Linked DNA regions of Homo sapiens: regions 1 and 2 are each linked to region 3. The links come from fine-mapping of genetic effects on gene expression. A gene starts in region 3. Each other region holds a variant in brackets. All regions are shown on one strand. Distances are from middle to middle.

What was found.
Region 1: its variant is fine-mapped to the expression of DNAJC5 in whole blood (TOPMed, PIP above 0.99).
Region 2: its variant is fine-mapped to the expression of DNAJC5 in whole blood (TOPMed, PIP above 0.99).

The regions. Positions count from the first base shown.
Region 1 is chr20:63,931,587-63,934,337 of GRCh38, forward strand. DNAJC5 (DnaJ heat shock protein family (Hsp40) member C5) reads left to right here. Exons shown (of 5, transcript NM_025219.3): 5 at 1-2,751. Among named protein-coding and RNA genes, the nearest start is that of MIR1914, 8.6 kb to the right of the region's middle. RefSeq lists an enhancer at 650-1,151. The variant C/T (reference allele first, on the strand shown) is at 1,285.
Region 2 is chr20:63,927,776-63,930,526 of GRCh38, forward strand. It overlaps DNAJC5 (DnaJ heat shock protein family (Hsp40) member C5), which reads left to right. Exons shown (of 5, transcript NM_025219.3): 2 at 560-677; 3 at 1,537-1,750. The coding sequence starts at 571. Among named protein-coding and RNA genes, the nearest start is that of MIR941-5, 9.3 kb to the left of the region's middle. The variant C/T (reference allele first, on the strand shown) is at 1,573.
Region 3 is chr20:63,893,740-63,896,490 of GRCh38, forward strand. It overlaps DNAJC5 (DnaJ heat shock protein family (Hsp40) member C5), which reads left to right and starts at 1,387. Exons shown (of 5, transcript NM_025219.3): 1 at 1,387-1,584. RefSeq lists enhancers at 600-769, 702-1,229, a cis regulatory region at 685 and a silencer at 1,229-1,468.

The DNA.
Region 1 (2,751 bases), 38 kb after region 3:
TCAGAGGAGGAGCCGGCGCCTGGCCACGCCAACCTTAGAATCATGAACTGTAGTCACAGAGATGGGAAGGCAGCCTCCTGCCTGCCCTGGCCTTGCTGGGGCCCCTCCTGCCTCCACGCCCACCCAGCGTCGACCCTTGACCCACGAAGTGCGTAGCATGCAGTATTTAAAGCAGTGTAGCTACGGTCTTCTGTTTTTTTCCCTTTTTTAATAGCATGTATGGGGTTCTGTTCCATGTCTGTGTTGTGGACATTCCGCGGCATGACCGCGTGAACTGCACGGTGGAGCTGCCTCAGGGCTGTCGGTCAGGTTGGTCCAGTGAGGGGTGACTGCAGCCGGTCAGGTGGGCGAGGAGAAGGGGGGCTGCCCCTTTCCTACCTGTGCTTGAGGGGCCGGAGGCAGGTGCTGCCTGGCAGAGCTGTGTTACCGTCTTGGCCTCGGGGTCTGGTCCACACTCTGTGCTCCCAGCCTTGAGGCTGCAGTAGGACTCTGATCTCACCTGCCAGAAGAGAGGCGGGGCCGCGTCCTCCTGGCGTCACCGGCGTCACTGTCATTCCTTGGTGTCTGTGCTGGGCATGGTTGGCTTGGGGGTCTGTGGTTTCCTGGGCCTTGTGGCAGGGTTTCTCCCGTGGGAGAATTTGGTGTGGAAAGCATAGGAGGCCCCTTCCGAGGTTGACACCGTGTCCTCCGCGGTGTTTCTCGCCTGGTCGTCTCGTCGTGTGGACGCTGCCGTTCTGGTTCTCGGAGGTGTGTCCTTCGCCGTGTTGGGGTTATTTGTCTGTGTTCCTGCACTTTTCCCGGGCTCTGAGCTGGATTGATGGGGCCAGTCTCCCCCCTCCCATCTTGAGGTCGTTCTCCACATTCCTTCCAGCACACCTGTCCTTTCCATAGCCCTTTTTGGACCTTTAGAACCACAGATGATAGGACCAGCCCAATGAGCCACAGTCAGAGAGTAGATTGTGCATGTGTGAGCACCCAGCTACTGGGGACGGGGGCTCTCCCACGACCCCTCCTCCTGTGTTTGCCAGAGCTCCCATCTGCCCCACTCGCCTTTGCCCCGTCATCGATGATTCAGGCAGAGCCAGATTCGTTAGGTCCCTGGAGGAAGGACTGACTGGACCAGAGGGACCCTCTGGCTCAGGAGGGTTGGGTCCCTGGGAGGCCGGCAGCCAGGCCACAGAATCCACACGTGGACCATTGTGGGTCCCTGGGAGGCCGGCAGCCAGGCCACGGAATCCACACGTGGACCATTGTGGGTCCCTTGGGAGGCCAGCAGCCAGACTA[C/T]GGAATCCACATGTGGACCATGGGAAGTCAGTCTCTTGCGTGTCCTAGACCTTGTGGGTGGCGCCCTGCATAGGGGAGCAGGGGGAACGGGTCTGATGTCCCTGTGCTGGCTGAGGGCTCAGAGCTGCCCGCACTCCGTAGCTCATGGGATGTGCTGGGCCTGCCTTTGGCGCCATGCTGCAGACTCCAGTGGGCCTGGTTTCTGCAGAATGTCCATGGTGGCCGCTGCAGAGTTGCAGAGGTCCCTGTAGAGATAAAGCTGAGGAGGAGGCTGTGTGTGATGGCTCTGGCTCGGACCAACCAGATGAGCCTCCTGAAGCCCCCTTCCCTGCCTGCCTGCTGACCCGTGGCCCCAGCTCACTCATTGCCCTCAGCAGCCACCCGAGGCTGTGCAGAAGGGTAGGTTCAGGTTGACCAGGAAGCTGCCAAAAGGGACATGGATATGAGGATACATCTGGACGTGCTTAGGAACAGGGTGCTGGTTGAGGGCCCCCAGCTGACCCCTACTGCAGATCCGCATGTGGACCATGAGCCGGCTGCCAGCACTAGGTCCTGGGCAGCTTTGTTTGTCCCACTTTTCTTTGTTTCTTCTCACTAAAATGATCACGAAGACCTTTGACAAGAGGAGAGATATGCACTGTGATATTAAATTAGAAATAATTTATCAAAATCAGACCTCTCCTAAAAGAATAAGAAATTCATTGTTTGGCCCATCCTGAAAGGTGAGGTGGCGAGACAGTGGGGTGCCTCCGTGCCGCTTCGTGCAGCAGCAAGTTCAGCCTGAGATGCTGGCTGTACTCAGCCTTTGCAATTTTTGTAGATGTAGCTTAGGACGTGAGTTATTTTTCCGCAGACTGGCCAAGAGCCAGGTTCTAAGCTTGGACCTAAGGTAGAAAGCTGCCCATCGGGGGCCCTAGCTCAGCCCCACCAGGCCCTCTGTTGGGCCTGCACACAGCTCTGTGGCTAGAACACTCCAAGGCCCTTCGGTACCCATCAGAGTGGGCCCCTTGCCAGGTGGCTTTTCAGTTACAGAGTCCAGTGGACCATTTTGTAGAACCATGCAGCTCCCTGCGGAAGGTGGGGTAGGGTGGGAAAGAGGAGCAGGTCTGGAGGTTTGTGGAACCCAGTCCCCTGCAGAATCTGTAAAACCTAATAAATCATGGTTGTGGCCATTCTCACGGTGGTGATTGTGATTAGACGACCCCCGGGAAGCCCAGACACTCGGGGCCTGGAGTTCCTCCCCCTGCCTGACCTAGAAGCAGAACCGTTTTCAGCGCTCTGCCCTGTTGGCTTTAAGGCTTTGTCTTAATTTAAGGAAAAAGATCCTCCCGGGTTTTATTTCTCTCTTTCTTGAGTGGACTGTTTCCCTATAATTAAAAGAGGTGGTGAGTCCTGGGGCAGCTTCCGCGCCTCCCTGTCCACGTGCTAACAGATCAGGACGCCCCCAGCACCCCTGCCTGCTTTTGC
Region 2 (2,751 bases), 34 kb after region 3:
GTTGATATGTTTGGATTTAGATCTTCCAACTAATTTTCTATTTGTTTCCTGTGTTGAGTTACTTTTTCATTTTTCTTGTAACTTTTTAGCTTATACCTCTTTGCATTTTTTATGCAGAGGTTGCTGTAAGGATTACAATATGCATGTTTATTTTAATTAATTAATTTATTTTGTTTATTTATATATTTGTTTTTAAGGAACAGGGTCCCTGTCTCCTGGGCTCCAGTGCAGTGGAGTGATCATAGCTCACTGCAGCCTCAAACTCCTGGGCTCAAGCGGTCCTCCCGCCTCAGCCTCCCAAAATGCTGGGACTACAGGTGTGAGCCCCTGTGCCGGCCCACAGTACACAGCTGCAGTTCTTCAGGATCTCTTGGGGTGGCCGTATTCTGCCGTCTCACACTTCTCCATGCCATGGCGTCTGTCTGTGCACGTGGCAAACTCCACAAGGCAGTGTTGGATTCTTTTGCTTTGAACGGTCTTATGGAATAAAGTCCATCAGCTCTGCCCTTGGTACTTTCATCTATACTTTGTGATACTTTCTTTTTATTTTTTCTTCTAGAATAGCCTAACATGGCAGACCAGAGACAGCGCTCACTGTCTACCTCTGGGGAGTCATTGTACCACGTCCTTGGGTTGGACAAGAACGCAACCTCAGATGACATTAAAAAGTCCTATCGGTAAGTGGACAAGTGTGGCCCCCACATCCCCCCAGGAAGACACACATGCCCCGTGTGGTTTAGTCTGCATTTTACCAAGAACCATTGCACATACTTTATCCTGGCCGACTCAGCGTTGAACTGGTCACAGCTCGGTAACACCTTTGTATGTGTAATGTGCTCCTTATAGCTTAAAGTTATGGTATTCATGTTCTCTTGCCAACAAAAAATAGCACTTAGTAGAAACTGACACACTGTCCACAGTTCCATAGGGAGTCAGGGTCTGAACCTGTTTGAGGCCTCACAGGAGCCGCAGAGCGCTGGCATGGTCCTGTGGTCTCCTTGTTTTAGCACAGTGATGACAGAGACCCCTCACTCTGTTGTGGCCTTCTGATTGAGCTTGAAGAACTGCACTCTTGGGTACAGTTTCATTGAGTAACCTGTAAGAGACACCATCACTAATCCAGACAATTCAGATAGTCCTCCTCTCGTGTGCTAGCATCGTGTAGTTCATAAAACACTTCTTAAAGTGCCATCATTACGCCCCGCCGTGCTTACCGTTCACTTGGCACTTGTGCAGTTAGCGGCTGGGACACCAGGGCTGGCCTTGGTGCCGCTGAACTTAGATGTGCCGTGGCACTCACAGCCCTTGGGGCTCCCTCCTCTGAGGCTGGGTCAGGGTGAGGAGGTTTACCTGAAACAACCGCGGAGCTTGCTTTTGTCCCTGGCCCCTGCAGCCCTGGAGAGTCGGACAGTGAGGTGGCCTGGGTGGACCTGCCTTCCACTGCACCCGGCAGTGCGTGCGGGTGGGATGGACGCGGCGGCGGGTGCGGGTGGAACAAAGTCCAGGGTAGAGCCAGGACATGGTTTTGGTTTGCAGGAAGCTTGCCTTGAAATATCACCCCGACAAGAACCC[C/T]GACAACCCGGAGGCCGCGGACAAGTTTAAGGAGATCAACAACGCGCACGCCATCCTCACGGACGCCACAAAAAGGAACATCTACGACAAGTACGGCTCGCTGGGTCTCTACGTGGCCGAGCAGTTTGGGGAAGAGAACGTGAACACCTACTTCGTGCTGTCCAGCTGGTGGGCCAAGGTGAGGGCGAGCTGCCTGCCGTGCGGGCACCCGAGTCACTCCTGCCGTGCGGGCACCCGAGTCTCTCCTGCCGTGCGGGCACCCGAGTCACTCCTGCCGTGCGGGCACCCGAGTCTCTCCTGCCGTGCGGGCACCCGAGTCTCTCCTGCCGTGCGGGCACCCGAGTCACTCCTGCCGTGCGGGCGCCCGAGTCACTCCTGCCGTGCGGGCACCCGAGTCTCTCCTGCCATGTGGGCACCCGGGTCACTCCACGCCTGCAGGGTTCCCAGCATTGCAGAGCCCATGCGTTGATGCCAGCAACTCTACACTCCTGAGAAAAGGCTTCTGGGCATATGGAGCCTTTCTCCTCACCTGTGTGATGGGCGAAGCTCTGTCACTGGCTTGGTGTCCTGCCTGGAACAAGCCATAGCGTACAGATTGTCCCAGGGAAGAGCCGTGCGGAGCCGCCAGGGTTTCTTCTGTAAATGGCTCCCAGTCCTTCGTGAGACAGGAGGAAATAAGCCTCGATGTTACATCCGCATTTCTTCGTTTCCTCGTTTTGTTCCAAATGTCATATATGAGGCCAGAGGGTTGGAATCACTGCATGGCATTTGTGAGAAGCCTGTATTTGGCTTTGACTGGTCGGCCTCCTCACTAGAATCCTTATAAAGTACTTTTTATTTAGTTAATGTTAGACAGAGTCTCGCTCTGTTGCCCAGACTGGAGTGCTGTGGTGAGATCCTGGCTCACTTTAACTTTGAATTCCTGGGTTCAAGTGATCCTCCCACTTCAGCTCCAGAACTGCAGGAGTTGAGGCGTGAACCACTGTGCCCAGCCTGGAGGCTGCTTTGTTTTTTTTTTGAGACGGAGTCTCGCTCTGTTTCCCAGGCTGGAGTGCAGTGGCGCGATCTTGGCTCACTGCAAGCTCCACCTCCCGGGTTCACGCCATTCTCCTGCCTCTGCCTCCCGAGTGGCTGGGACTACAGGTGCCCGCCACCACGTCCAGCTAATTTTTTGTATTT
Region 3 (2,751 bases):
TTCAGTAACTATATTATTCCATTTGAGTGCTCACTTGTGCAGTTGGGCAGGTTTCCATTCTCGCTATTAAAAATAGTGCCTTCATGAATATTTCAGTGCATATACCTTTTTCTGTATTTAGGAATATTTTCTTTGGAAGAATGTCCCTAAAGTGGAACTGCTAGGTCTCAGAGGGACTCACTTAAGGCTGGTTCATTCATTCTTGCAGCTCCCAGCACAAGTGGAATATAGCTTCAATCTGAGATCGGTACCAGGCCCATTTCATTCTCTCATCCCTCCAATTCTGGCCTGAAATATTTCATTCTCTTGGAATCTATAGTTGTAGATATGAACCTGGCCTTTCTGCTTCTTGGGTTCCATAGGCCTTTTCTTGCTGCCTGCTTGATGTTGCGCAGCTTAATGACTGCTAGGAGGCTTCCCAAGCTCTGACACTTCCAGGCTGTGAGACTGGAACAAGCTTGGCAATTCAAGACCGGCATTATGGCAGTGAGTTATGAGGGCAGAGGAAGGAGGCCAGAGCGTGTTGAGAGAGAATTTGGGTTTCACGCAGTGTGTCACGGGAAGCCTTGGATGCTACTGGGTTTGTTTTAAAAAGATGACCGCACTGAACTCAGGTAAACGGGCAAGGGTGGAAGCGAGGAGGCAGGAGCACCGGCCGCAGAGGTCTGGGAGCTTCTAGGATGGGAAGTGGCCCAGGCAGCCTACGCGGGGCAGGCCGTCAGTGAGTGGCGGAGCGCCTGCAGTTACAGGGACAGGGAAGGGTGGCCGACGGGATGGGCAAGGGCAGAGGGAGGTGGAGTGGACGTTCGTGGTCCTGCCTCTCCACGCTGCTGTTTGGAGATGATTCCGGGAGGGTGGGAGGGCGCTGGCGACGGCATTTCAGTGGTTGGACAGGAAGGAAGGAAGGACGTCCCATCTCGGCGCTCCAGGGTTGAGCAAATGTCAGTCCCAGGACGGTGGCTCCGGGTGGGGGCGGGGGCGACGGTCCGCAGCCGTCTCCCACCAGCTCCCTGTTCAGTTCTTTGATGAGAACGATTACGTTTTCTCAGTCTTACTTAAAGCGCTGAGTAAACTCACCTGCAAGACCAGCAAGCCCTGCGCTTCTCTTTCTGCGCGGTTCCCCGCAGCACATGGCGTGTCCACCCGGGACCCACCTGCGGCCACCTGAAGACTGGGAGGACTGGCTCCGCCCCCGCGCTTCGTCCCCGCCCACTCATGGGCGGAGCCTCCACAGGGCGCCTCGGCCCCGGGCTGTCACTCGGGACTCCGCCCCTTCATGGACGGAGCCTCCGCTCGGCTCTCTGAGCGCATGCGCAGCCGGTCCCACCCGCGGCTCCGACACGCCGGAGCCCACGTCCTTCCGGGAGCGCGCGCGCCGGTGCGGGTGCGTGCGTGAGCGTGCTCGTCTCCGCTGCCGCTGCCGCTGCCGCTGCCGGTGCCGCACCCGCGCCCTCTGCCGCCGCCGCCGCCGCCGCCCGGGGTCTCCAGGCTGAGGAGTGCGTCGGCCGCTGCCCAGCAGCGCCGCGAATCGGGGAGCGGAGCCGCGGAGCCGGCGGGAGGGCGGGCGGGCGGGCGGACGGGCAGGTGAGCTCGCTGCGGGTCGGGCGGGCGGATCGGCCCACGTCAGGCCCGGGCAGGCGGGCGGGCGGGCGCGGGTGGGGGGCGGGGGCGGCACTCCAGAGCCGGAAATGGCGGCGACCCCCGGGCCGGGGCTGCGCGGGCGCTCGGGGCCGGAGCTGCTGCGACGCCGCGGCCTGGGCCGGGGCGGGGGCGCGGGAAGGTCGGCGCCGGGGCCTGCGGGAGCCGGGCCGGGCCGGGCCGGGGGTCTGAGCACCGTGGTGGGGGCTGGGGCGGCGCTCTCCGCGGGTCTCTTCGGGCCCGGACGCCCCCTCCGCTCCCCCAGGTCCCCGCGGCCGCCCCCAACCCCCCGGGGTCTCCTCTCCTGCGGGGGGACTGGAGAAGCTGGGCCATCGCTGGTCTTAGGGAGGCAGATAATTTAGTCCCTGGGTCGTTGTGTTTATAGCTCGGGGAATTGAAAATTGTTCTGTAACGCATCGTAAATTAATCTTTCCGACGTTGTAAATTCCAAAAAGCATTTGGTTTGTTAGAAAAAACCTGTTTTCTCCGCTTTATAAAAACATTTGAAGCCATGCTTTATATTGAACTCTTAAGGAGAGTATTAGGAACTCGTCCGTTCAGGTTCTAACTTGTTGGTGTTAAGTGTCTGGATTAAAGACTCTCTTTTTCGTGTGCCGAAGCCATGATTTCTCAAATTCATTCAGTTGTGTCATACAGGAAAAGGAAGCAAAAATTTCAGCTTTATTTTTGTTTTCCGGCTTAGGCTTGGTTGGGAAGATTTGATGGTGGTTAGACACGTCTGCCCTTATTTGCCTGTTTAGAAAAACCTATTCTAATGACAAAAACAGTTACATTGCTCCCACTATTGTCATGGTTACCTGAAGGCAAAAGTTTACTCAAAGCTTCTGAGATTTTATGTTCGTTTATTTGCTTCTCTTTTTAAAAAAATGTCAGCTGAGTTTCAGGAATGAGTAGTCTGTCAAACAAGAGATGAAATTAGAAGCCTGGATCTAAGGGCTTTGGGGAAGTTTCGGTTGAGTTCCCCTTTCACTTGTGTCGGTGCTGTAGGACTCGGGGTGGCTCCAGCTGGCGTCTGGCCCAGCAGAGAGCTGTAGGGGCCCGCTCTGGTTGCTGGCTGTGTGGACTCTGAGGGACACCCCTGGCGAGGGTGTT